Homo sapiens: one gene and its partners. The protein of the gene in region 1 interacts with the protein of each later gene in a pairwise test. Each region holds a gene or a part of one and is shown in the gene's direction. Other genes may lie near its edges.

Region 1 (7,025 bases):
CTCAAGCTCCCAACCTCAGGTGATCCACCTGCCTCAGCCTCCCAAAGTGCTGGGATTACAGGCATGAGCCACCGCACCCAGCCCTCAGATATGTTTTTGTCATTTTACTCTTCCTTCAGGACTCCAGTGACATGAAAGACCTTTGGTTATTATATCATGTGTCCCTGAGGCTGCTTATTTTATTCTATCTTTTCTTCTCTCTGTTAGATTGGATAATTTACATTGAACTGCCTTTAAGTTCACAGGTCCTTTGGCCCTTTCCTGTTTATCTCCATTCTGTTATTATTATTATTACTATTATTATTATTATTTTTTTTTTTTTTGAGATAGGTTCCCACTCTGTCATCCAGGCTGGAGAGCCATGGAGCAAGCATGGCTCACTGTAGCCCCAACCTCCTGGGCTCAAGCGATCCTTCTGCTTCAGCCTCCTGAGTAGCTGGGACTACAGGTGTGCACCACCAAGCCTGGCTAATTTTTAAAAAAAAATTTTTGTAGAGATGAGGGTCTCTCTGTGTTGCCCTGGCTGATCTAGAACTCCTGGGGCAAGTGATCTTCCCACCTCAGCCTCCCAAAGTGCTGGGATTACAGGCATGAGCCACTGTACCTGGCCTCCATTCTGCTATTAAGTCCATTGAGCAAGTTGTTTATTTCAGTTACTATATTTTTAAAAATTTTCCATTTGATTCTTCTCTTTTTGTTTGTTTTTGTTTTTGTTTTTGTTTTGAGACAGGGTCTTACTCTGTTGCCCAGGCTGGAGTATAGTGGTGCAGTTATAGCTCACTGCAGCCTCAACCTCGTGTGTTCAAGTGATCTTCCCATCTGAGTGTGCTGAGTAGCTGAGACCACAGGCACGCACCACCATGCCTGGCTAATTTTTTTTTATTTTTTATTTTGTAGAGACCAGGACTTGCTGTGTTGCCCAGGCTAGTCTCGAACTCCTGGTTGATTCTTCTTTATCATCTGTTTCTTTGCTGAGACTTTCTATTTTAACATTTGTTGCAAGCATTTGCAATTTTAAAAATAGCTGTTTAAAGTCTTCATCAGATAATCCCAACATCTGTGAAGTGTTGACAGTGGTTGATTGGGTTTTCCAGGCAAGTTGACATTTTCGTGGTTGTTTGTATGCTGAGTAATTTTGGATTGCATCCTGGACTTTTTGAGCATTATGTGGTGATACTCTAGGTCTTATTTAAGCTATATGGGAAATATTGATATTTTTGTTTTAGCCAACAGCCAATCTTACTTTCAGGCCACAAGTTCCAATCCCCAACCTGTAGGCCATGAGCATCACGTCAGTTTTTAAAGCCCCCGTGCCATTTCCTGGTCAGATCTCCTGGGCGTGCACTGCCCAGTGGTCATTCTGGGACCCGAGTGGTTAGTTCAGTTCTCAAACTCTTTCGTAAGTCAAACTATGGTATATGCACAGGATTCACAGATGCTCGATTCTAGAGAGTTCTGGAGACATAAACCACTTCATGGGGTGACTTTCCTGAGCTTCTGGCTCTGTGCTGTCTACCTGGTACTTTTCTGATTCCTTGCGGTTTACTGTTGTACACGTCTGCCATTGGGCCCACTTCCCAGCCCACATGGAGAGAGGACAGAGAGAGAAAAGGACAACGGTTGCCCCACCCCCTCGGAACAGTAGCTGGCACCACAGGGCCTGGGGCATGAGGAACAGGGGAGATGGGGGGCTTCTGTGTTTTCCAGGAGAGTCAGGAGTTCCTCTTCTGGCCCCAGAGCCAGGCCTGGAGGCTCTGCTGAGCTCTCGTGTGCTCTGTGGTGCACACTTCTGCTTCCAGATTGCTGCTGCACTTTCTCGTGGGGGGCGGTGGGAACACTCTGCATTCGTGGCTCTTCCCTGGTCCACCTGCTGCTGTCTTCAGTCTTCCGGCAGCTGCCAAGCCTCCTGCCCAGGTTTCAGAGCTGTAGTCAGTGGCAGGGGAAGGGGCGCCAGCCGACCTGCCTCACCAGCCGCTTGCTTTCTTTTGTGTTCACGCTGGCCTCATCCCTGCGGTGTGGGTGGACTGTATGGGCTCAGCCAATCCAGTCATGCAGGTCACTCAGGTCCCGTTTCTGACGGCCACTGGCAGTGCAGCATTGAGCACGCTTGCTCAGCCCCAGACGTGTGCACTTGGGTGTCTCCGTGACCTGGGCCAGGATTTCTGGAGGACTGAGGCTGCAGACATGGAATTGCCAAGGAGAGTGCTGCCCAGAAAGACTGTCTCGCGCACTCCGTGCAGACCTCTTCGCTTTCTTACTTTCCGGGACGGGACAGTGGCCTCGCTAACCACATTCCCCTCTCCCCTGGGGACTCTTGTCTGATTGTTTATTGAGCCGAAAACAGGGTCCATCTGGGTGCTGTGGGGTGCAAAGGCAAGTCCCAGGGGGCAGCTTAGAGAGAGTCGAGCAGGAAAGCGCTAGGGCTGCGGGGGTCCCCGCCACAGTGCGCTGCTGCATGTGGCTCCGCCCGGAAGGATCCCACTCCTCCAAACAGGTCAGCACAAGGGCAGCTGTCAGGATGCCACCTTCCTAAGTGGCTTGCAGAGCTGGTGGCTGGGTCAACATTTGCCTCCAGATGCGATCATCTGAGTGCAGCCTGGTACTTACACAGCCGGGCCCTGAGCAAGCATCCCTTCAGCACCCGCCCTGGGAAGGGCACCGGCTCTGCGTGGCTGGTCACACCTCAGCTGAGAAGGTTCTGATTGCTGCCCGCAGGGCCGAGATCAGCCTCGTGGGCTGGGCAGCTTTTCAGCTCCACTCCCTGGGCCTGCTCTCGCGGCATTCACGACCTCATGTGTTCAGTTACAGCTGGCTGCCAGGGCCAGTCCCAACTCCCTGAGGGGGAGGCAGCACCCAAGGGGAATTAGGGGCCGTCACAGTGGAGTGGAGGGCCCTCCGAGAAAGAGGCAGGCAAAATCCCAATGCTCGGGCTCCTGGAGCCCCGGCCAGTGAGGGTCCCGAGCTCCTGAGCCTCCGCTTGCCCACTGAGCACCTCCTGCCACACACGCTGTTTCTGGTGCTGGACACGGCAGCGCGCAGCCCCACGTGGCTTCCCCCAGCAGGGAGAGAGAGAGAGAGACAAGCAGGCAGACGCAGGGAAGCTGTTGTGCACCATGGGATCAGGGAGCCGCTTGCGAGATGAGGACAGGACAGCACGAGGAGGTGAGGCTGGGGAAGGTGACAGAACCGGAGCCCTTGGGGCCATGTCCGGTTCCCTGCCCCTCCCAGGGCTGTCATTTGCTTGGCACCTCAGTTTTCCCAATTCCCTCAGAGGCGGCAAGCTGGTGAGGGGCTTTTGTTTGTCTACCCAGTGCTTTTTGGACATCATGCATAAGACTGCACAGACTCTCCTGCCACTCTGCAGACAGGAAATGCAGGCCCTGCACATGTTAGCCTGGCTGGAGCCAGCATCTGGGCCCAGGTATCCAAGTCGGTGGCCTTTGGCCCACTTGCTGGTGTGAGCATGGCCTCGTGCAGCATAGCAGTGTGCAGTGGTGGCCAGGGCTGCAGCCCCAGCGATTCTTCTGCCAGTCACTCTGTGCCCTCAGCACGGGGCCTCTGATCTGTGCCTGTTTCCTCACCTCTAAAATGGATGCAAGAAGAGATGCTCCAGCATCTTGGCTCACGCAGGACAGGCTAGGGGGTGCAGGACCGTCGCCCCGGTGTGGATTTTCAGTTGCACTTTCAGATGCATCTCGGCATGCGCAGTGGGTTACAGCCCCTCAGGTCATCTCCCCACAGTCCCTGCCCCAGAGGTTGTCGAGGCGTGTGTGGAGCAATGCCTGGCGCAGTGGAAATGCTGTCAGTGTTAGCCACTGTGACTGGATTTAAGTTGATTATTTTGGATCAAGTGTTATCACACTTCAGGGTGGCCCTGAGAAGCAAGAAGGGGTCAGGACTCAGGAAGCACCATCTCTCATAAGCCCTGGGGGGTGAGGGGCCAGTGGCCTCCCTGGGAGGCCAAGAGGAGAAACAGCTTTCAAGAAAAGCAAGTCTGGCCTGGTTCAAGAGACCCCAGCCCAGCCCAGCCCATCGGCTGAGCAGGGACCACAGGGTCCTGGCCCAGGTCCAGCCGAGCTCATGGACTCTCAAAGCTGACTCAGCGTGGGGACCAGCTGCCGGGCCGGCCCGGAGCATTCAGGGGGCTCCTGGGAGGGAGGGACTGGTACCTGATAGAGAACCCTCAGAGGGGGCTCCAGGCACGCATCATCAGGTCCCAGTGTGGCCTGAGGCCTAGAGGGCAGGACCCACAGTGTCCACCTCATGTCCACAGGGCCTCGGCATGAAGGCTGGAGGGGTGAGCCTGGGGACCCTCAGCCAGGCGTGGGTTGGTGTGGGTTAGGGGTAGACCTTAGCCACAGCTGGGACTCTCCCAGCTCAGGGGATGCCCAGGAGAGGGATGGGCTTGGAGGTGAGAAGGGCGTTGAGAGTGGGGTGGCCAGAGGGTCACATGATGTGGTAGGAGGCAGTGGCTGGTGAGTTGGGGACCTCCCCTCACGCCCACACCGCCACCCCCAGGTCAGCGCCAACGGCAATGTCCTGCGCAGCGAGATCGTGGGCTCCATCAAGATGCGAGTCTTCCTCTCGGGCATGCCCGAGCTGCGCCTGGGCCTCAACGACAAGGTCCTCTTTGACAACACGGGCCGTGAGTACCCTTGCCAAGGGCCCTGCCCATGAGGATGGCCTCACCAGGCACACACATTACAGCCTAGGGCAGGGTTGGGCCAGGCGGAGGAACGAGCTGGTTTCAAGCACTTGGTTGAGCAGCACTTCACACTGCTTGAGACAGCTGTGTAGAGTATTCATCCTTCCCTGGACATAGAAGGTGCAGGGGAGTGAAGATCCTCCAGTCCAGCTGGGAGGCCCCCGTCACCCGGCCTCACACGCCAGGTCCTGCACCCTGCCCTGCTCTGCCTGGGGCACTGGGGCCTAGGCTAAGGCCTTGCTCTCTCCCTCCCAGGCCAGGTTTCTCCCCTCACCTTGGGCCCTAGGTGTGGGCCGTGTGAAGGCCACGCATGGTGATTCTCGCTCCCGCCGCCTGGCCTCTAACACTTCCCACAGCAGGGCGGGGGCAGAGGGGCCCAGGGCCTGGTTTTGTGAACTGTGCCTCCCACTCAGCTGTCACAGGCCACTGGAAGAGGGTGCAGTGGCTGGGCATGCCCCCGTTCCTAGCCCGGTGAGGGCTTCTCGGGCATCAGTCTATCAGGGCAGCTCCCCGCCTGGGGCTGGGCAGGGCCCCACCCACATAGCCCTCAGTGAGGTGGCAAACCAAGGTAGGACCCAGGACCCCGTGGATGCCAGGGCCTGAGCCCTTGGGGAGCCCCGAGCCATCCCCCAGCCAAGTCCACTGATCAATCATTCAGTGAACGTGTCCTGAGCAGGTCCCCTGGCTGGGCCCTGGGATGGCCGCTGGGGACTCAGCATGAACCAGACCCACCAGCCCTGCCCCTGGGGACCCCAGGGGTGTGAGGAGTGATGGGGCAGTTGTCTTGGGACCCAGCCCCCTTGGTGTTTGTGGCCCAGGCTGCTCTCAGTGCGTGGACTGGGGGCCCTGCTCTGCCGGGGTGGGTTGCAGGTGGTAGGAGTACTGCTGAGATAGTGACCCGGAGGGCCCAGATCTGTCCTACCCTCACCCCTGACCCCAGGCGGCAAAAGCAAATCCGTGGAGCTGGAGGATGTGAAGTTCCACCAGTGTGTGCGGCTATCACGCTTCGAGAATGACCGCACCATCTCCTTCATCCCACCCGACGGCGAGTTCGAGCTCATGTCCTACCGTCTCAACACCCACGTGAGTGCGCCACCCTGGGGCTGGGCTGTCGGCAGACTCCTCCTCCCCTTCACCTCCAGGAGGTGAAGCCCAGGCAGGCGCCAGGGCCAGCCCCACCCCACGCTCCATGAGCTGCCTGGCTCTGCAGAGATGGAGTCTGAGGACTTGGGACTCCGAGCTTTCTGAGGGGCACAGACCCCTTTGGCCACCACCACCCCTTTCCCAGGCAGCCCCCAGAGCAGGCCCTGGTCATGTTTTCTGCATTTGCCCCAAGGCCTCCCCGGTAGCTCCCGGCTACCTCGGCCTGTCTGCCCTGGCCCTCCCTGACGCTGGCTGTACGCTCCCTGCAGGGCTCTGGGCCCACACCTGGGCAGATGGTCCCTTGCCCTGGGCCTTGGTTTCCCCTCTGAAATGGGCCTTTGTCAAACAAGGCCAGGTGTGAGCACCCTCTTTGCCCTCCTTGGCAGGTCAAGCCTTTGATATGGATCGAGTCGGTGATCGAGAAGCACTCCCACAGCCGCATCGAGTACATGATCAAGGTGCGTGGGCCGAGGCCACCCACTGAGGGCCTTCTGGTGTCTCTGGCCCGTCCCAGGAGCCTAACCGAGGGCTGGGGGTGCCGTAGGGCTGCCATCCGTGCACCCTCACTGTGGCCTCAGATGCAGGAGTGACCTGACACTGAGGGGACACCGCCTGGGGCCTGCTCCTAGATGGTGCCACTTGTGGGGAGGGGCCTGTAGCCAGGCATCCAGGACACTCCCAGAGGTGTTGCCCCCAGGTGGAGCACCTCTGCCCCTCAGCGACCCTGTCCAGCGCAGCCTGGCCCTGGGACATAGACATTGTCCTAGGAGGGCAGGGCAGAGGGAGGGATGAGGAGCCTTGGAAGCTGAGCAGACAGGAGGATGAAGATGAAACTCCTGAAATTAGGTCTTGGGAGAGTCTCGAGGGCAGGAGAAGGGGTGGGTAGTGCCTGGAGAAGTGGGGCCAGGGGCGGGGCTAGGGAGGATCCCCCGGGCCAGGCTGAGGGGCATGTGTCCTGGAGAGGCTGGCCAGCTCACCTTGGCCTCCATAACCCCGGGCCGCATTGGCCTGGCCTGCAGGCCAAAAGCCAGTTCAAGCGGCGGTCAACAGCCAACAACGTGGAGATCCACATTCCCGTGCCCAATGATGCCGACTCACCCAAGTTCAAGACGACGGTGGGGAGCGTTAAGTGGGTCCCCGAGAACAGCGAGATCGTGTGGTCCATCAAGTCCTTCCC
Region 2 (7,659 bases), on another chromosome or scaffold:
ACTCCACAGGGAAGTAACAAACACTCACAGGCCGAGTGGCTCCGGCGCCCCTCAGGCAGCACTGGAGTCGGGGGACAGTCCAGCCAAGCCTCAGTTCTGGTGTCAAAGACTCGAATGCGGTTGCAGTAAATCTCATTGTTGGAATGGAATGGCCCAAAGCGGTCGGCACGGCCCCCAAAGACATACATGTGACTTCCCAGCATTGTGGCTGAGTGGAAGTCCCTCCAGCGTGCAGGGCTGCCCTGGGCAGAGGCAGAGAGATGGTGGAGGGGTCAGCACAAAGACTGGAAGAGGATCTCCTCTGACTGAGCTTCCTATCATTGCTTCAACAGAGGGTGGGGATTTGGGAAAAAAAAGAAAGAGCAGACCTTTGTACAGATAAGAGTCCATGTCATGGTGCTGGTATCTAGCTTGTGAATGTCATTGGAAAAACAGTCCGCCTGAGTAGGAAGAGAAAAGGAGGAAGAAAAGAGGGAGCCAATGGTCACTCTCTGACCCTCCATCCCTCCCCTCAAAACCTGCAAACAAGCCAAAGCCTCCCATTTCACCATCCTAAATTGCCCTTCCCCTCTTTCTCAGTCCCACCCTAAACCTCTTATTTTATTCCCAGACCTACCTGCTGCTCGTAGCCCCCAAAAATGTACATGATCTTGCCTAGGACACAGGCTGAATGTCCATCCCGGGCCCCAGGAACTGTCCCTGACACTCGGGGTGTGAACCACTTGTGCGTATCTGAAGGAGATGAGAAAATGGCTCAACTAAGCACCCTCTATGACAGTCCCTCCTCAGCTCTGGGGTACTCTACTCCCCAAGACCCCCAACCCAAACCTTTCTTGGGCAACTGAGGCAACATCTGGAAGGACATAGCCTCTCTGAGATCCATACTCACTGACGTCAAAGGCATAGAGCACATTGCAGGCCCCTTCGGTGTCATTCCGCCCGCCCCAAAGGAGGACTGTGTCGTCGATGAGGACGGTTGAGTGTCCATAGCGCATGTAGGGTACCACAGGAGCTTGCCCACGGATGGCAGACTTCACCGGGGGCAGCTTTGTCCAACGCAAGGACACTGTGGGCACAGCTCTGCTCAGCCCTGGGAACCTCCCTCCAGGCTGTCCACTTTTCCCAAACCAGATGTTTGTCCCCAATCCCCTTGGTCCCAGAGACCACAGCCAAACCTCATCAGCAGCCCGTTCCCACCCTGATGTGGGGACCCAGGGACAGCCCCAGCATTGGCTTACCTGCATTGAAAATGTGCACATCTATCTGACGCAGTGTCTCATAGTCTTCACCAGAGCAGTAACCCCCGAAGGAGTATACCCGATGCCCGACAGCCACTGCAGCATGGTTCACCCTGCGGGGCCCGCCCTCCAGGTGCACTGTCCACCGTAACATCCCCTGGGCCACTGGTTACAGCAACATGCCCCCCCGGCACGGCCTGCTGCCTCTGCTATCTGCACACAAATTGGGGCCACGGGATCCTCAGGCGAGGCTTCTGCCCAGCTCACTGTGACTCTGCCCAGAACCAGCCTTTGCCTCCAAGTGTCACCCTGGGGGCCCTCCCACACTACCCCTCCACAGGGGCACTAGTCTCAGCTCAGGTGGCTGGCCCTGCCCCAAGGGAGCTGCCGAGGTCAGGGAGCAGCCTGGGCCCAGTGTTCTCCAACAGTGAAGGGTGGGGCCACCCCCACCTGATTGCCAGCTCAGAATCTGCATATCATGGTCACAACCTACTCGTGGAGGCTCCACTCTGTCCCTGGCTTGGCACAAACTTGAAGCCCCCTTCCCAAACGGTATATTCTCTTGTCTCTGCTCTGCTTACTGCCACCTCTCTAAGAATCTGTGTTCTTTGAGGTGGGGAAAGGGATCTCAAAATACTCACAGCTATTAATAGCCCAGCCAGCCTCAAACAGTCCATTGAAAGCTGGCATGAGTGCCTCAAAGCAGAAAAGCTTTCAGGCTTTTAGAGTGGAACAATCCCCCTACCCAAGATAGGGCGGGACTGATCCAGGACAGGGACCTCCATGTTACCGCGGTTGGTTAGCCCCTCACAGGGAGCTCCTGTCAAGCTGAGTTGTTGTCATTGGGGTCACCCAGGGCCCCCCACAGGCACAAGGAGTTCCTTTGACAGCTGTGCCTGGTATGCTGCCAGGACTTAAGCCAGAAAGGTATGTGTATGCTTAGGCTTGGGGGATGGTGATAGAGGGAGGGGTTTTCTCCTCCTGCCACTTCCCCATCCCTGCTACTGTGGTAGAGAACAAGCCATTTCCAGTAGAAAAGAGAGAACAAGCTCTTCCACAACTTGGGTTCCTGAAAGGCGGATAGAGGTGGGAGTGTGCAATGCAAAGGGGAAGGGGCTGGGCACAGTGGCTCACACCTGTAATCCCAGCACCCTGAGAGGCCGAGGCAGGTGGATCACGAGATCAAGAGACGGAGACCATCCTGGCCAACATGGTGAAACCCGTCTCTACTAAAAATACAAAAATTAGCTGGGCACGGTGGCGCGCACCTGTAGTCCCAGCTACTCAGGAGGCTGAGGCAGGAGAATTGCTTGCACTCGGGTGGCGGAGGTTGGAGTGAGCCGAGATCACACCACTGCACTCCAGTCTGGCGACAGAGCGAGACTCTGTCTCAAAACAAAAAAAAAGGGGAAGGGAGGCAAAAAATGCCCTTGGGCAGGACAAGAGAAAGATCCAGCATGAGAAGTCATGGTCTTTTTTTTTTTTTTTTTTTTTAGATGAAGTCTCGCTCTTGCCCCCAGGCTGGAGCGCAATGGTGCAATCTCAGCTCACTGCAAACTCTGCCTCCCTCCCGGGTTCAAGCGATTCTCCTGCCTCAGCCTCCCAAGTAGCTGGGATTACAGGCGCCTGCCACCATGCCCAGCTAATTTTTGTATTTTTAGTAGAGATGGGGTCTCACTATGTTGGCCAGGCTGGTCTCAAACTCCTGACCTCAGGTGATCCACCGTCCTCGGTCTCCTGAAGTGCTGGGATTACAGGCGTGAGCCACCATGCCCAGCTGGTCATGGTCTCTTAAACACAACCTGTCAACCTAGTGGCACGTACACCTGGGTACATCTGAGGTTTTTTCAGGCAAATCCTTGCAACTGACAATGCTTTTGCTGGCAAGCATCTCCTGAGTTTGGGTGTATCATCATCTGCTCCCTGTTTAAGAAGCCCTGGCAGAGGAAAGGGCCAGGCAAAACCTCAGGCACTAAAACAGCTCAAATAAGGGAGGCCCCTTGCAGGAAAGAGACATGGCTTTCAGCTGGCTTGCTAGTCCCACCCACCCAACCTCCCCCAACTCCACACCCTAAGCTTTAAATAGCCATGGGACCCATCCTGAAATAGCCCCAGCAGGAAGCTACTCTCACTTCATTACTCCCGCTCTCCAAAATATCTTGGGTCTGGGCTTGTGGAGACTGTTAGGAGGTCGATGGGCTTAAGAATGGAAGTCTTCCATCCTCCCTTATATTCTCTATTCTTCCCTTCAGATATGTCAAGGTAAAGTAAAATATGCACAGGAGAGGAGATAAGCAATTCCAGCCAAAGGTGGAGAAAAAAAATTTTAGTTTCTCTGCCATATAAACAACTCAAATTCAAGGAGAACAAGCCCCCAGGCGCTCAGGGGCTCCTCTTATCCCTGGGTCTCCCCAGTCCTCCATCACCACCAAGCATTTTCAAACTTCTTCTATTCCCTTAATGTATCTACCCGCCTGGTCTCTTGCATTTTTTATTCCCCATTTCTCGCCCTTCTTGATCTCGTGAGAGCTTTGCAGTTTTCTCATTTTTCCTTCTCCTACCATTCCAAGCTCCACCCAACAGCCCTCCATTTTCCCACCTCCACTAAGGAAAGAAAAATTAGCATGCACTGACCACGATACCCCTCTCTGCATATGACTCTATCCCTGTCTTCTTCCAGACATTCCGGCCTCCCCTAGCCCACCACGCCAGACACCCCTCCCCTTCCATTATGCTCAGCTTCCCTGTTTTCATGGCCCAGTCTTCCTTCCCATTTCCTTCATTGCTTCCTCCAGACACCAGGTCTCTCCTACCCATCTCCTCGCCATCCTCCCCTAGCCCTGCTTTCCCCATTAACACTCTCCTTTCCCATCATCCCCCTAGCTCCCTCCCCACCCCCACCTCATCACTCTCAGGCCCCTCCCCCGCCACTCCAGCTCCAGACAGCACGTCCTAAGCCCCCTAATTCTCCCTTGCCCTTCTACCCATCCCAGGCTACCTGCCAGGCCGAGCCGGGGCGGGGCCGCGGGTCCTCGAGCTGCCTGCAGCCTAGAACCCGTTGCGCGCCAACCGACGCCTTAGTCCCCAACGAGATAAACACAGCCAAGCTCGGTTCTTCCGGCGGGCAGCTGTGCGCGCACGTGCAGTCGTAGCTAAGTGCCGGAGGCATTTCGGGACTTGTAGTCCATACGTTTCCTGAGGGACGAGAGGGCTGAGGAGTGGGCAGGGGCGTAGGAGAGATTCTGCGCATGTGCAAATATGTGTCGAGACCGAGGAGGCCACTGGGTAATGCAGTCCTTTGTTTTTTGGGCTGGGAATGACGGAGGCGGGGCAAGGGGCGGACTCCTCGTCCTCGCCAGCGTCAATCATGGATATGGGGCGGGGCTGGAGGACTAGGCACCTCTGCACGTCCTGCCCCGCCGGAAGTGGAGGCCGCGGGCTCTGAGCGGGTGAGGCGCGCGGGAACACCGGCGCCGGGATTCGGATGGGGGCGGGTGGGGGACGCTGCAGCTGGGGCCATTTGAGGGGAGCCCATGGGGCCTGAAAGGCATCTGTCAGGCGGTACAGAGGGGGTCCTCTAGGAGAGGGGAGAAGGGGGCGGGTACGCCGACCTGTTTAGGGGAGTCTGATGACCCAGAGTTCCCAAGTCGCGGGGGAGGCGTGGCGCGGGGAGCCGGGGTTCTGGAAGGGGTGTCTTTTAGGAGGTGGCAGGGCCTCCGGTTGGGCGTTTAACTAGGAAGTGGCGGAGCAAGTTGGTGGGGCCTGGTTCAAGATAAGAACCCCGACTTAGGAGGGGGAGGAACGAGAGGCTGGAATTGGGGCGGAGGGGTGGAGGATGCAGGAGCCTCGGGGAGGAGCTGGTTTTTTGCACGCAGGAGACTACAAGGAGATGATGAGAGGATGAAGATGGGCCTGGTTTCATCCGATCCCTGTCCTACCGCCTCCCTGTTCTTGCAGCCCCTGCCCGGATGGCAACAGTAGTTCTAGGAGGAGACACCATGGGCCCTGAGCGTATCTTCCCCAATCAGACTGAGGAACTGGGACATCAGGGCCCTTCAGAAGGCACTGGGGATTGGAGCAGTGAGGAGCCTGAGGAAGAGCAGGAGGAAACGGGGTCGGGCCCAGCTGGCTACTCCTACCAGCCCCTGAACCAAGATCCTGAACAAGAGGAGGTGGAACTGGCACCAGTGGGGGATGGAGATGTAGTTGCTGACATCCAGGATCGAATCCAGGTAGGGTGGAGGAGGGATGGTTCCTGAACAGGTGAAGCTGGGCTCCCTGAAAGCCTAGACCCAAACGGTCTTCTGTGGCTCTGCAGGCCCTGGGGCTTCATTTGCCAGACCCACCATTAGAGAGTGAAGATGAAGATGAGGAGGGAGCTACAGCGTTGAACAACCACAGCTCTATTCCCATGGACCCAGGTAAAAGATCATTCTTTCATTCTGGAATAATTACTAAGGAAATGAACTGGCATGAGTCAGTAGAAGGAAGTTTCAGAGGAAGACCCTATCCTAAAAAGATAGTTTGTAAACTAAGATTTTGTAGACTTCAGAGTCCAAGTGAAATGCTCTTTTGCTAGCTTTGGGGATGGGCAGGCTTGCCTTAAAGTAACAAGGTGGATTTGGTGACCCTAGCAGCCCAAGGGCTCTGGGTTGATTCGGGGATTGGGGAGGGGAGCTGGTCCCATTATTTCTATGCCTGAATGGCCTCTGGCTCTGATTTCAGAACATGTAGAGCTGGTGAAAAGGACAATGGCTGGAGTAAGCCTGCCTGCGCCAGGGGTTCCTGCCTGGGCTCGGGAGATATCGGATGCCCAGTGGGAAGATGTGGTACAGAAAGCCCTCCAAGCCCGGCAGGCATCCCCTGCCTGGAAGTGACCACAGTGAGAGCTGCCTTATATTCCTACATTCCAGGCCAGAACCAGCACAGGACTGAACACATCCCTGGTTGTAATGTCCATTTCCATCTTCCCCGTCTCCCTTTCCACATCAAGGCACATCAGACTTCTCAGAGACCCACTTTATTCAGTTCTGTACATATGGGGACATCGGTCCAAGCCCAACCCACCTTAGCATGTATCACTCTGTGGAGAATAAAGCACCCTATGTACACAGCCAAAAGCCGCACTGCCTGCGCCCCTGGAACCTGGGTCCGGCCTTCCTCAGCCCCTGGCCCCTCCAAGGTACCTATAAGGGACAAGAGAAGGCCTGCCCAGCATAGCACAAACAAGGAAATAAATAGGTGTTGGCAGGAGCCATGCTTGGGGCACCGCTCCCTGCTTCCTTCTTTCTAGTTTTGGGAACCAACAGCACAGAAAAGCAGTCAGCCCCAGGGTGGTCCCTTCCATGTCTGTGACCCCAGGGCTGCTGCTCACCAAAGACAGGGCACGGGGTAGGGTGTTTATTCATCCCTCCCCGGCCCCACTTGGTCCATCTGGGCCCTATATTCATCAGTTATTGTCCACAGCCTATACTTTTCTCCTTTTGACCTCCCTTGGTCAGGCATGGGGTAAGAAGAAATAATACAACCCTATCTGCCAGCACACGGCTGGGACTGGGGGGCCTATTTGTGCTGCAGGGGGGTTGGCTTCCCTTCAGCTACTCTGGGACCAATGGGGCTTGACATAACTTTGGTGAGAATAATCTCCTGCTGTTCCCTACATGCCTCTGCAGGGGAGAGAGAGGAGGGGAGATACCTGGCGTTCAAATGAGGATGAAGGGAAGAATAGAGGAGCGTATGTATTCCTGTGTGTACTTCTCAGAGCAGCCTCAGGTAGCTGTGGGTGAGGAGCAGGTAGGGGACAGGCATCCCCAGGTTGTCTGAGCACTAAGCATCTTAGTGCTCAGCCTGTACTAGCCACAGGGAGGCATGAACACCTTTTGGGGAGAAGAGGGACCATTCTGTGGGTGTCCCTGCTTCAAGTGCCCACATCCCCCTCCCTTGAGTAGCTAGAGAGGCGCTGCCTTCCCCCAAGACAGCCAGTAGGGAGCAGAGTATGGAGGGCCAGGGCAGTGTCCCAGGGCTGTGTGGGCTGTGGCCCTGTGGTAGGAACGTGAGGGGTCAGAGAGCCTCCTGGCTGGCAGTTAGGAACTCTTCCGCCCGCTTGTGCGCCTCCAGTGCCTTGATGGTGTACACGTCCTGGGGCAGCTCCGACTTCCTCCGCAGCAGCACTTTCTCCTTCTTGATGTCTTTTAGCATCTGTGTGTGAATAGGGACAAGGTGAGGAATGGTGACCAATTCCCAGTGAATTCTATTGTTCCGTCCCCTTATTCTTTGGCTCTGCTGTTTCTGTCTCCTCTCCCTTCCAGAGCTATTATTTCTGCTCCATCCCCCTACATTGCCCTCCCACCTGAACAGCCTCAGTCTCCACAGTCCTCTTCAGAAGCTGGATGTCCTCAGCTGTGGGGGTCTCTGTCTCCAT
Region 3 (5,462 bases), on another chromosome or scaffold:
CTCTGTTGCCCATGCCAGGGTGCAGTGAAGTGATCATAGCTCACTGCACCCTTAAACCCCTGGGCTCAAGCGATCCCCGCAGCATGCCACCATACCCAGCTAATTTTTTTTTTTTTTTTAAGAGATGGAGTCTCACTACATTGCCCAGGCTAGTCTTGAACTCCTGGCCTCAAGTGATTCTCCTTCTTCAGCCTCCCAAAGTGCTGGGATTACAGGTGTGAACCATCATGCCCAGCCCACTACTATATTTTTAACTTTGGGCCTAGACTGCTTCTTTCAGAGAAAATCATGAATGTTTCAAGTCTAATACTATTTATTGAATTCTAATGTCTTACTTAGTCCCACTGACGATACTCCTGCTTAAAATTAGTAAACCAGCTGTCTCCCCTCTTAACTAGTTAGGAGACATTTAAAAATGTGTAACTCTACCACATAAGTAAGTAGTAAAAGCTAACTAGGTTGATTTCAAGTAATAAAAATAAGTCTTTTTCTCTGTTTCTTTTTCATCTCCCTCTCCAATCCTTTCCCCACCCAGTTCAACTTCTTACACCAGGATATTAGTAATGACTTTCCCTTCAGGCATCTTGGTTGGCCAACAGTGGAAGAAGGAGAAGGGAACATGTCCTGTTCTTAAGAAGAAGGGCAGTTACCGGGGTGGCAAATGGTTCCCAAAGTGTACTTCTCTATTGACTCCTTATCACCCTTTTTTAGAGTGAATAGCAGCTGCAGATGAATTCGCATAGTACCCAAGAGCTCAGCCTATGCACACAGACCACTCATTATCACAGGCACACCAAGAGCCACGTTCTGCAGTATGAATACTCCTCAGTAAGACATTAGATGATCTTAAGTTCTTTTCTGGAAAATAAAAATAGAGAAAATCCAAAATAGTAATCTACTTATCTACAATTTCCCCAGATGTCTATGTGATATCAGCTGCTTTATTGCCAGATGGATGAGAGTGATTTTCACTAACTTGAATAACAATAGCTGTCTTTTATTGATGGCCATAATCATTATTCTAATCCTCATATCAATCCTACAATATAGATACTTACTTATCTCCTTTTACAGATGACAAAACTGAGGTTCAGAGAGGTTAATTTGCAGAAGACCACACAGCAAATCCAAGACAAAGCCTGAAGTAGAAACACGAACTAAAAAAACAAAAACAAAAACAAACAAACAAAAAACTTTATTCATTGTCAGAAAGATTAAGTAAACTATTTCATCAGTGTACAGGAAGGAACATTTAAAAAAGAAAAAGAAAAACTTTCTTTAATATTAATAAAGACGGAAAGGACGGGGGAAATACAGTATTTTATTAAATTAAAAAGTGGAAATAGTGTGGAACCCATTACTAGCAAAATTAAGGTCATGTTCTTACCCACTGTCTTTTTGTACCTCTGTACTGTAGTTTACTGGAAAAGGAGTCAAGTTTAAGCATCAGCAATATTGGTTATGTAAAAATAATTTGACTTACTTAGAAACTGAGAAATATTTGAAGGTATTAAAAATTGTTTACCCCTACATAGGATTGCTAAGCTTTGGCTGGAAGAAAAAAATGTGTCTGCCTCATGTAGGACCAAAGTCCCATTTGAGAACAGTTGATGTATCCTTCATTAAGGTCCACTGATTGCTCTAAAATAAAGTCAACTTGCAATGGGTTGACCCTGGGATATGTATTGCTAAAAACCTCTCAAACTCTAGCTTTCAAAAATACTCTTGCCTCTATAATGCCAGCCTTACTGAACATTACCTCCAGATGATTGTGCATTGCTTTCTTTAGTTATTATAAGGATTAGTGCTTTCCAAAGGAAATACAATTGTTACACATATAATTTTAAAATTTTTATAGTCACATCTTAAAAAGTAAAAAGATACAGGTGAAATTAATTTTAATGTTATATCTTCACTCAATATATCTATAATATTGCCATTTCAATATGAGATCGATGTAAAATTATCAATGAGATAACTTTTTGAAGTCTTCAAAATCTGTTATATATTTTATATTTATAGTAACATATCTCATTTTGATCTAGCCATGTTTCAAGTGCTCATTAGTCACATGTGGCTAGTGGCTACTATATTGGACAATACTTTTAATGTGTGTTTGCATATAGAAATTTTATATAATTAGTGAATACTTCAGGATTCTTTATTTGACATTATTAAAGAGATTATTATAGTTATGTAGACTTGGAGGAGAGCTATAGAAGCATAGAAAAACTTAAAATACTAAATTTTATTTCAAACCCCATGGTTGTGTTTTATTGATTATACAACATATTCATTAGTTTTAGAGATTATAGAAATGCCAATTGGGTTTCTTTCACTAATGGCAGTCATGCGTGATTTTCCTTTGATAATAGGAACAGCATGGATTATTAGAAAGCATTTAGTTTCAACAAAATTCAGTTTAAATATTAATCTTCGAGTATGTACCACTAACCATCTATCATCTTAGGGAAAACTAATTTGAAGACCTGTTTCTCTCCAAAACATTGCTTCAAAGAATAAGAAAAATAAAACCTCAAATAGCTTTTCATACTGTTGTATCATTTACTGTAAGTAATCTTGCACATGAGTTTCATTATTATAACTATTCCTTAAAGTTACTGGAAATTCACTGTGATACCTTTTAATTAAAGGAATGTTATTTTGGCCTTCCAGATAAACCTCTACTTGCAAAGGGAATTTGAAAAAGATGAGAAGCCACGTGACAAGTCATATCAGGATGCAGTTTTAGAAGATATTTTTAAGAAGAATGACCATGATGGTGATGGCTTCATTTCTCCCAAGGAATACAATGTATACCAACACGATGAACTATAGCATATTTGTATTTCTACTTTTTTTTTTTAGCTATTTACTGTACTTTATGTATAAAACAAAGTCACTTTTCTCCAAGTTGTATTTGCTATTTTTCCCCTATGAGAAGATATTTTGATCTCCCCAATACATTGATTTTGGTATAATAAATGTGAGGCTGTTTTGCAAACTTAACTTGCAGGAATGGTATGACTGTGTTTCCTACTGCTTTATTCTGTAAACAAGAATTGTAGCACCATGAAACAGACCTCTGGGTCCCAGTGGGCATTTTTTCCCCTTTCAGGATGTAGGAGGACATGTATAGTATGTCAAAAACTGCAAGCTTTTCCCAACTTTAACCTTACCAGCATGTTAATATCCAGTTTTTTTATAGTTTAAAAGTTAAAGTGCCTCATATTTTGAAAATATCCATTAAGGACCCAGGAATTAGCATTTCACTTGTTTATACATTTTTATAACATTATGAAGACGATATAAAAATCCTAGAACTGAAGAGTCTTCCTTTGGTATATGTGCAGGAAGATAGTTGTATATCTCTGTTCCACAAAGAACGCAACACAGTCTCTAAACTTTTTGGTGTAAGCTTCTAGCCTTGGGTATTTTCCAGTGGGGAATGTTTAAAAATATTTGACCAAACCAAAGACTTTTTGCCTCTTATAGCAAGCATAAAGACTGTACTGCCTGGCTTTTGTATTCCTTCAGACATTATTGTAAATGTGCAACTCCTCTTCCCTCTTGTAAACCTTTATAAGATGTCTGCCACCCCAAGCTTTTGTCTTGATAGTTTTAAATTGATGCCATGAAATTTCTTAGTTTTCGTTCCCTTTCTCTAGTTATCTCTTTCCTTATGTCACCTCATTTCCCATCATTCTTGTCACTAATGATGAATGATCATTACAAATTGGTATGCTGTCAAATTTTGATAAATGTGCCAAACAAAGGAGGATATACAGTGCCATGGCAATTTTGTGTCATGGTCAAGTTATGATATCATATGACTTGAGAATAGTATGTAAGAGATGCTGTAGAAGATCACGTTGGTACCAAAGAAAGGGCACATGTCTATCGGAACATAGATTTTGCATACTGCATGGTATGGTCAGGCTTTGTGTCCACACCCAAATCTCATCTTGAAATTATAATCCCCATAATTTCCATAATCCCCACATGTCAATGGAGAGACCAGGTGGAGGTAACTGAATCATGGGGGTGGTTTTCCCCGTGCTGTTCTCATGCAATCTGATGGTTTTATAAGTGTTTGGTAGTTCCTCTTGCATTCATTCTCCCACCCGCCACCTTGTGAAGAAAGTCCTTGCTTCCCCGCCTTCCACCATGATTGTAAGCTTCCTGAGGCCTCCCCAGCCATGGGGAACCATGAGTCAATTTAACCTCTTTCCTTTACAAATTACCCAGTCTGGGGCAGTTCTTTATAGCAGTGTGAAAATGGACTACTACACTGCATATATAGGAAAGTATGGTCAGACAGTAAATAGCTCTGTTCAAAATAATTGAGTTCCAAACAAGTAAAGTTTTTTCTACCTTCTGAAACTTGCTCTTTCCAAACCATTGTTCATCCTTTAACTTCTTTACACTATCAAAAATTCTATTTAAAAATAGAGGGCTTTCAGATGAGTACATACAAAAACAAACAAAAGTATACATAGGGGTAACACAACCATGAGATTAGTAAATAATACATATGGCTAGCACATAATTTGACACCTTATAAAACAAGAATCTGTACTATCTTTTCCTTCCTCCCAATATTTCTTCATTTCTATGCTCAATTTTCTAATACTTTTTCACATGCTTAATCATTTACTCTTTCATCGCCTTCCCTCAAAAAAACCTGCTCCGTTGAAGTAAACTAAGTAACTCAATATTCTTTATTTTGGTTTGGAACCTGTCTCAATTTTTTGTATCCATATTAAGAAGTCACCCTATAATCTAAACTTTGTAATTCTAATTTTTTTGTCCCATTATCATACAAAGTGCTTTTAAACTTGTTTTTAAAAAATGACAGATAATGCCACATGAATAGGAAGATGATTCATTCTAAAACTTGTATTTACATAATTAAAAATAAATTTATAATCATTCTACATACAATACAGTGTACAAGTATTTCATATATCTGCATGATTGCCTTATGCCTTCATATGCATATATGTGGCATTGAGTGCTGTGACTACATTTTGAGTTCTAGAATTTTTTTTTTTTTTTTTTTTTGCAGGTGCAAGATTTAATAGAGTGAAATAGAGTGAAAACAGAGCTCCCATACAAGGAGGCGACCCAAAGGGGGTTGCCATTGCTGGCTGGAATGCCTGGATTTATATCCTGATCCTTGTCCCTCCCGCTGTGCTCTCAGGCAATAGATGATTGGCTATTTCTTTACCTCCTGTTTTTGCCTAATTAGCATTTTAGTGAGCTCTCTGATTGGTTGGGTGTGAGCTAAGTTGCAAGCCCCATGTTTAAAGATGGATGTAGTTACCTTCCCAGCTAGGCTTAGGGATTCTTAGTCGGCCTAGGAAATCCAGCTAGTCCTCTCAGTCCCCACTCTCAACAGGAAAACCCAAGTGCTATTGGGGAGGTTGGCCGATGACTGCTCTAACTGCTTCCTGCTGAAC
Region 4 (7,978 bases), on another chromosome or scaffold:
GTTAGGCGAACGTGATAACCACTACACTACGGAAACAGATGCGGAGAGGTTACTCTATGACTTTTATAAGTGTTATAGTCAACATCCAGGTGTCGGCTTCACCCATGGAGTCATGGCCCTTAGATCCATTCTTCCCCAGAACACCAGTCTCCTTGTGGCCCTGCGTAATGCCGTTTGTCAAACTGTAAAGCGTGACCTCTAAGGGTACCCCAGTCACTTCCAGCAATTAAAAGCAAAACAAGGCCGGGCGCGGTGGTTCACGCCTGTAATCCCAGCACTTTGGGAGGCCGAGGCTGGCGGATCACGAGGTCAGGAGATCGAGACCATCCTGGCTAAAATGGTGAAACCCCCGTCTCTACTAAAAATACAAAAAAATTATCCGGGCGTGGTGGCGGCCGCCTGTAGTCCACTCGGGAGGCTGAGGCAGGAGAATGGCGTGAACCCGGCATGCGGAGCTTGCAGTGAGCCGAGATCGCGCCACTGCACTCCAGCCTGGGCGACACAGCGAGACTCCGTCTCGAATAATAATAATAAATAAAAACAAAACAAAAAACTAGCGAGCATCGCGGGAGGAAAGGCAAATGTACCTTCCAAGGCTTAAGACTGGATACGCTTCCCTAGTGGTTCCTTTTCTTCCAGGGAAGACAGCCAGAGGTTTCAATTTTCACATGATTTGTGCTCTACGGACAGTAATGACAGAGAGGATTCAAAAAATGCAAAATGCATTTAAAGCACACGATATTTAAATATATTTTGTTAAAATGTAAATTAAAGTAAACATAAAAATCAAAAAGTGAAATTATTCTTATGTCCTTTCAAAAATTTATTTCTATGAATTATGCATAAGTATTAAACTAAACGGCAAAATATAAATTAATGAATATCAAAATTTTAAGTCGGTTTTTAAAGATAAATCTGAAATTTTTTTTACATTTTAAAAGTTCAATGAAAAATTTTAAGTATTTTTATAAAAATAAAACTCGCCAATCCTAGCATCCAAGGTATGTACGTATGTAGAGTTGGAATACGCTTAACGCCTGTCATATGGAGATCTGCATATATGTAAATTTAAAAGTAGTAGCGATTGCTTAATATTGTGAAATGTTTTTCCGCCGCCGACGCCTAATTTCCGAATACCTGGATTGCTTGGAAGCGAGGCGCAGTCCTGCTGATCAGGGATCCTTGCTGCCTCTGTGACCCCGAAGGCCCGCTCCTTTCGGCGCAGGGCGGGAGCCCTTCTTGTGTGCGTCTGATTCTCTGGTCAAGGTCACCACGGGCCTCCAGGTGGCCCAATCCATGGACGCCTTCTCTTACGAGACCATGTGCTGAACTGGACGCTGCCAATCTCCTTTGCACTGTGCGGCACCCTAGGCCTGGGTGGGCGCTTCGCTGCAGGCTTTTCTCCCATCCCGTCTCCGCCTCCGAGCGCCCAAGGCTGACCCTGGAGCGTCACGTCGGCTGGCAGCAGGACCCACACCTTAGCTCCGTCTCTGGTTCCAGCAAGAACTGTTCTCCCAAGCTTCAGATCCACGCGTGTCTTGGGCAGTTTTTCCAGGTATCTCACAGCATCTAACGCCCAACCGTTCGAGACCTAAGTCATTGTTTTTTTCTTCCCTCCCCTCCCGCATCCTCAGCCTGTGATCTAGGTTGTGGAACTACCCAAATCTATCGCCGCTGCAAGCCTTGCATCCCGCTCCTTCACCTGCGTCTCCCTCTGGCTGCCGCCTCACCCGGCGCCGGCCGCCTCCTGTATGGACCAGGCCTGTGTCCTTCCAGCCCCTGTCTCCGACAGTCTTACTCCCCCTCATACTCCCTGTTTGCATCACTCCTGAAGGAACCCCCTGAAATATAAATCAGAGTGAGTCCCTCAGTCTCCCCAGGCCCCATCACCACAGGGTTTGGGAGGAGGCCAAAGATCCCACCAGGTTCATGTGTGTGTCGTGCTTCTCCGACTGTTGAACGCTTGCCGCCTTTGTGCCCGGAGCAGCTTGGGTCACTTGCCTGGAGGGGCATCCCAAACCTGACCTGGCCAGAGCGGCGACGGGTGGAAGGGGTGGAGAGGAGAGAAAGCAGGAATTGTAGCAAAAAGCTCCAGCGGGCGTTCCCTTGGCTTGCTAGAGGACAAAGAAGAGAAGCCTGTCCACTTCATCTCCACTTTAATGAAAAAGCCAGAATCCTTTAAGAATGTTTTCCAGTCCCAGTGAAGGTGGTAAAAAATAACCCTGAAATCACAGTCTGCAAAAGAATCCGAAATAATTTGTGCAAGACGAAATGTCAAACTTAAAACTCTTTGAACACCAGCTTTGAACACCAGTAACTCATGTGCTAGGATTGTACTAGCGACTCTGCCTATTTACAAACGTTGACCAACTTCTGCCCAGACCGCCCTCACAGACTATATAGCCCTCATAAGTCCCCGCTTTGATTTACGTCTGAGACAGAAGACGATGCTATCTTTTGCTCAGCGAGATTAAGCCAGCTTTCTATGATCAACAGACTTCTCTCGTGGTGTGGTGCGTATGCGGAGGAGACTTCGACAGCTTAAAAATACAAAACGGGGCCAGGCGCGGTGGCTCACGCCTGTCATCCCAGCACTTTGGGAGGCTGAGGCAGGAGGATCACGAGGTCAGGAGATCGAGACCGTCCTGCCAACATGGTGAAACCCCGTTTCTACTAAATACAAAAAATTAGCCGGGCGTGGTGGCGCGCCTGTAGTCTCAGCTATTCGGGAGGCTGAGGCAGGGGAATCACTTGAACCCGGGAGGCGGAGGTCGTAGTGAGCCGAGGTGGTGCCACTGCACTTCAGCCTGGAAACAGAGCAAGACTCCATCTTAAAAAAAAAAAAAAAAAAAGAAAGAAAGAAAGAGAAGAAAAAAAGAAAAAAGGCCTATATTTGCAGGACTAATTTCGAGGCCATCCTGGGCTCAAGCGATCCTCCCGCCTTGGCTTACCCAAAGTATTGGGATTACAGGCATAAGCCACCGCGGCGCATGGCCCGTTTTTATCTCTATTTATGTATGGGGGAAACGTGGAGGCTGGTATTTGTGGGGCAACATCTCACAAAAATAGACTCTTAAAGTCAAGAGCATAAAAAAGAATATACGGAAGACAAGTGTCTCATATGACACAAAGCATCTTTCTTGACAGGGAGTCGAAAGCAGGTCGTAGCGAGACAAAGGCGGAAGCCTAACCACTAAATCTCCCAGTAAAGTGGGAGTGAATCAGATAGGTTTTGACGCTCACGAACGCCTGGGGTCGTCCTGCGGTCTCACCCCAGTTTCGATAAACCACATTGTTCCCTCCAGCACAGCAAGTCTCACAGCAAGACGGGGGCAGGCCGTCTGGTAAACATAAAATGCCTAATATGTGCTGCCCGTGGGCGAGTGGCCTACAGCAAAGGGTCATGCATGCACGATAGCCCGCGGTGCTGGCCTGCAGGAATTGGTCCACAGGTACCCGCCTCTCATTCTTTCTTTGAGAGTTAGCGAGGGTGCAAACGTTGTGAGAATTCTGCTCGGGGCCTTCCACACACGGATCGGAGAACACCAGGTTAGTCCAAGTTCTAACACCCACTGTTGGTGAATCTGCTACCCACTAGGTCTTGGTACAGAGAATACCATTTGTGCACTTAGGTAACACAACTTGCCTTAACCTTTCCAAAAAGCGAAATTACGCCCAACGTGGGGCTCGAACCCACGACCCTGAGATTAAGAGTCTCATGCTCTACCGACTGAGCTAGCCGGGCGGCCATGTCTGTATTCTAACTTTGTCTCTGAAGATGGAGGTTACCCTCAGAGGTGTAAGCACGTTTCCACTGTGCAAATACTAAGAAGCGCCTGCGCCTGGCTCTGTTCTAGGCACTAGAGCCGAGGATCTGAAATCTACGGATTCCTGTACATGTGATGGCTGCATAGGCTTCAGAAGGGAAGAGCAAGAGATTAGGTGAGGGGCGAGACCTGAATTTACTTGAGTAGTGCTCTCCTTCAGTTTTGCCCCAGTCCGTGTTCCTCCGAAGCGCAGGGACACACATGTCCTTCCTGCCACGTAAGGCCGGCCTCGGGAGAGAATCTCCCGAACAGACCAAAACGTGTTTCCGCCCGGTTTCGAACCGGGGACCTTTCGCGTGTGAGGCGAACGTGATAACCACTACACTACGGAAACCACCTTGGCTACTTTCCTGCCGGCATCGTCCTGAAGACACACACGGCTGAGACGGCCGGGATAGCTCTAGGCAAGCGCCCTTGTAGGACAGGCCCGGGGACCCCTGCCGCGGCCGGCTGAGCGGTGTCCAGGTTCTGGAGCCGGACTTGTCCACCGCAGCCGAGTCCGCAGGTCCTGTAATGGCCTAGCATAGTTCACCCACGAGGGTTCGTGGTTTTTGGCGCGTTTGATCTGACATACTCAGAGGCCTGACCACCCCCCTAGGAAGCGCGACGTCCATCTGGAGTTTTCCCGCGAGCCGCCTTGAGAGCAGGGTAAGTTCTGCAGGCCCAGCCCTGGCGTCACGCTGTGTCTGGCACTCACTGGAGATTCTGTACATAAATCATGGCCCCGTCATTTTTCTCGCATCAAACAACATTTATTTATTTATGTATCGACATCAAATCTCTATAAAAATAAAATTTAAAGAGCTATTTAAGCATCAAGTATTATTTCTACCGCACAAAGCATCTATTTTTGCAGAGATGCTGTGAGAATGTAGATGTAATGATTCGTCACCACTTCTTCACTGCTGGGCAGTTAGGGAAGTTCATCTAAACCATGAGACAGTGTCCGGTTGGCAGTTTCTACCTCGGATGCGAAACGCCGACTACAGTTGGGGAAGGGTGGGGCGTCTGCTGCCCTAACCCGCGAAGCGCTTTCTCAGGCCCCGCCCCCGGTCCGACCCGGACGACCCTCTGAGTCCTCCACAACGAAGTCGTCTGCCTAGAAGGGCCGGAAGTACTTCAGGGCGCGCCGCGGACCCACCCCCTCGCTTCCGGCATCGGCTGTGGGGAGTACCGGCTGCAGTCGGCTGTGCCGGGAGGGTAGGATGGCGTCTGGCCGATGCGGTGATAGCACCGAAAGCAGACGGCCGCCAGGCGCTCCCCCTACCCCCCGAAGTTTCTCCCCAGCGGCGGGGGATGGGGGTAGGCGGTTCCTCTGTTCTTTCTGCGTTCCCCGCGGCCTCTTACCACAGAGACGCGGGCCTCCACCGTCCTAGCCCTCCCGCCCTGTTCTCTAGTGCGGACTAGAGCGTCTCCTCGCCATTTCCTGTCGCCCTGGGGCCCCGCGGGGAAAAAGGGGGAGTAGCAGGACAGCGGAGGGAAGTCGCGAGCTTAGGTGGTGTGTAGACGCCGGAAGTGTTGGGAAGGAGGCCGGAAGCTAGGGGCGGGGCCAGGAAGTGAGGAGGGGCGGGGGTTTATGAGGAGTCCAAGGGAGCATTGGGGCAGACTTGTACTCAGAGCCACCTGAGGGACTTGGCGGTGGCGCCCAGCACTGTCCCCTCCCCTCGTAGAGACACGGTTGTCGTTTGGGAGTAGGGAACACTGTGTTGGGGTGGGTTGTCGGCAGGACATCTCTCTGGCTGCTCTTGGGGCGAGGTGTGGAGGGGCAGGGCTGGGGGTGGAGCCGGGTCGCCAGGGCGTCGGTAGGGAAGACCCCCGCCCCTCGCCCCCCCACCGAACCTCTACACTGGCTGGCTGGACACTAAGATGGCTGCCGTTGCCATGACACCCAACCCTGTGCAGACCCTTCAGGAGGAGGCGGTGTGCGCCATCTGCCTCGATTACTTCACGGACCCCGTGTCCATCGGCTGCGGGCACAACTTCTGCCGAGTTTGTGTAACCCAGTTGTGGGGTGGGGAGGATGAGGAGGACAGAGATGAGTTAGATCGGGAGGAGGAGGAGGAGGACGGAGAGGAGGAGGAAGTGGAGGCTGTGGGGGCTGGCGCGGGGTGGGACACCCCCATGCGGGATGAAGACTACGAGGGTGACATGGAGGAGGAGGTCGAGGAGGAAGAAGAGGGTGTGTTCTGGACCAGTGGCATGAGCAGGTCCAGCTGGGACAACATGGACTATGTGTGGGAGGAGGAGGACGAGGAGGAAGACCTGGACTACTACTTGGGGGACATGGAGGAGGAGGACCTGAGGGGGGAGGATGAGGAGGACGAGGAGGAAGTGCTGGAGGAGGTTGAGGAAGAGGATCTAGACCCCGTCACCCCACTGCCCCCGCCTCCAGCCCCTCGGAGGTGCTTCACATGCCCTCAGTGCCGAAAGAGCTTTCCTCGGCGGAGCTTCCGCCCCAACCTGCAGCTGGCCAATATGGTCCAGGTGATTCGGCAGATGCACCCAACCCCTGGTCGAGGGAGCCGCGTGACCGATCAGGGCATCTGTCCCAAACACCAAGAAGCCCTGAAGCTCTTCTGCGAGGTAGACGAAGAGGCCATCTGTGTGGTGTGCCGAGAATCCAGGAGCCACAAACAGCACAGCGTGGTGCCATTGGAGGAGGTGGTGCAGGAGTACAAGGTGAGAGAAGTACAGAGAGAAGATGGGAGTTTAGTGGGGGGATGGAGAGGAAGTAAGGGGACCTGGGAAAAGGAAACATCTCTTCACCCACCAAAGAACCTCATGGTATTGGTGAGCCAAGTTTGCTTATCTAAGCACTTACTGCCACCAAGGTGGATTAGAATGAGAAGGATTCTGTACACAGAGCAGATGCAGTGAAGACGACCAGGGAAGGATGGCTTCCTCAAAGCAAATAGAGCAAAGCCGGTGATGCCAGATCAGGTCTCTAGGGCTTTACCAGAAGTCTCGTTTTCTTTCGGGTGAGTCTTAAGTCTGTCCTTGACGGAGACACCTAGAGATGGAAAGAACTGGGGGCTTCAAAGGACAAGAAAAGGCTCAGAAGCAGGAACACAGAGATAACTGCTAGTGTCAGTGTCAGACCCAAATGCTCTGCACTTGCCTCCCAGTGGGTTCCCCACCTACCACGATATGGCTTGGTTCTGTCTTCAAGGACTTTGGTTGGCTCTGTGTCATTCTTATGCACTGACTAGAAAGCAGGAGCTTTTCAGTCAGAAGACCTGGCTCTGCAAGTTGCATTGTCAAATCTTGATTAAGTCTGTGAGTGTCTTTGGACTTTAATTTGTCCAGGATTGATAGTTAATATTCACTGGACATTTATATGTATACCAGGCACTGTACTAGGCACTTTTCATGGACTGTCTCGTTAAAACCCAGACAACACTGAGTTTGATATGTTTTCCATTCCCATTTTATAGATTGGGAAACAAAGTCAGAGAGGCTTTAAGTACCATACAGAGGGCCACAGAGCTTCAGTAATAATTGACTTAGTTATTTACTGTCCCTTCCCCTGGTGTATACTAACAACGCCACCACCATTTGGATGTCTGTTGTTTGACTTTTCTGATGTGACTTTCTTGGAGTCTGATTCTAGTTTGACAAATACCTTGCCCCTACTTCTCATTTTGACTCTTCTTTGGACATAGGTAAAGGAGATTTGTTTGCAAGGCAGCCAGCACAAATAGCACTACTTAGTGAAGGCCTGGATGGGTTTGAAGCAGTGGGACCAGGAGGAGGAGGGGGTAGCCTCTGTGTGGTCTGCACAGAGCTTTTTTTGTTTTATAACTCATGTTTTCAGACCTTCTCCTGATTCCTGCTATAACTTCATTTAGGTATTATTTTCGTTACCCCAATTTTAGAGTAATGTGTCTAGGGTTTCTCAGCTCTGAGTGGTACAGCTAGACATACCTACATTACCTCATCACAAGTAACAATTTCTTTTACAGAGTGGCCTTTTTTTTTTTTAATTTTTTGAGACGGAGTCTCACTCTATTGCCCAGGCTGAAGTGCAGTAGCATGATCTCGGCTCACTGCAGCCTTCACCTCCCGGGTTCAAGTGATTCTCCTGCTTCAGCCTCCTGAGTATCTGGGATTACAGGCACTCGCCACCACAGCTGGCTGATTTTTGTATTTTT

Evidence for each region.
Region 2: the proteins of AP1M1 (region 1) and MEA1 interact in binary tests that used the Homo sapiens proteins (3 or more experiments, as listed by UniProt).
Region 3: the proteins of AP1M1 (region 1) and FKBP7 interact in binary tests that used the Homo sapiens proteins (3 or more experiments, as listed by UniProt).
Region 4: the proteins of AP1M1 (region 1) and TRIM41 interact in binary tests that used the Homo sapiens proteins (3 or more experiments, as listed by UniProt).

What each region holds. Positions count from the first base shown.
Region 1 is NC_000019.10:16,221,903-16,228,927, forward strand, and holds part of AP1M1 (AP-1 complex subunit mu-1), read left to right. Parts: intron 1-4,518; coding exon 4,519-4,645; intron 4,646-5,645; coding exon 5,646-5,788; intron 5,789-6,234; coding exon 6,235-6,306; intron 6,307-6,867; coding exon 6,868-7,025. UniProt on the Homo sapiens protein: Subunit of clathrin-associated adaptor protein complex 1 that plays a role in protein sorting in the trans-Golgi network (TGN) and endosomes.
Region 2 is NC_000006.12:43,010,926-43,018,584, reverse strand, and holds MEA1 (male-enhanced antigen 1), read left to right. Parts: upstream 1-4,638; 5' UTR 4,639-4,771; coding exon 4,772-4,799; intron 4,800-5,195; coding exon 5,196-5,470; intron 5,471-5,556; coding exon 5,557-5,659; intron 5,660-5,963; coding exon 5,964-6,115; 3' UTR 6,116-7,298; coding exon of another isoform or gene 7,299-7,436; 3' UTR 7,437-7,442; downstream 7,443-7,659. Other genes in the region: KLHDC3 (kelch domain-containing protein 3), read right to left, coding at 29-242, 369-440, 617-732, 890-1,066, 1,239-1,392; PPP2R5D (serine/threonine-protein phosphatase 2A 56 kDa regulatory subunit delta isoform), read right to left, coding at 7,299-7,436, 7,588-7,659. UniProt on the Homo sapiens protein: May play an important role in spermatogenesis and/or testis development.
Region 3 is NC_000002.12:178,463,146-178,468,607, reverse strand, and holds the end of FKBP7 (peptidyl-prolyl cis-trans isomerase FKBP7 isoform a precursor), read left to right. Parts: intron 1-2,676; coding exon 2,677-2,838; 3' UTR 2,839-4,944; downstream 4,945-5,462. UniProt on the Homo sapiens protein: PPIases accelerate the folding of proteins during protein synthesis.
Region 4 is NC_000005.10:181,218,307-181,226,284, forward strand, and holds the start of TRIM41 (E3 ubiquitin-protein ligase TRIM41), read left to right. Parts: upstream 1-4,974; 5' UTR 4,975-5,693; coding exon 5,694-6,506; intron 6,507-7,978.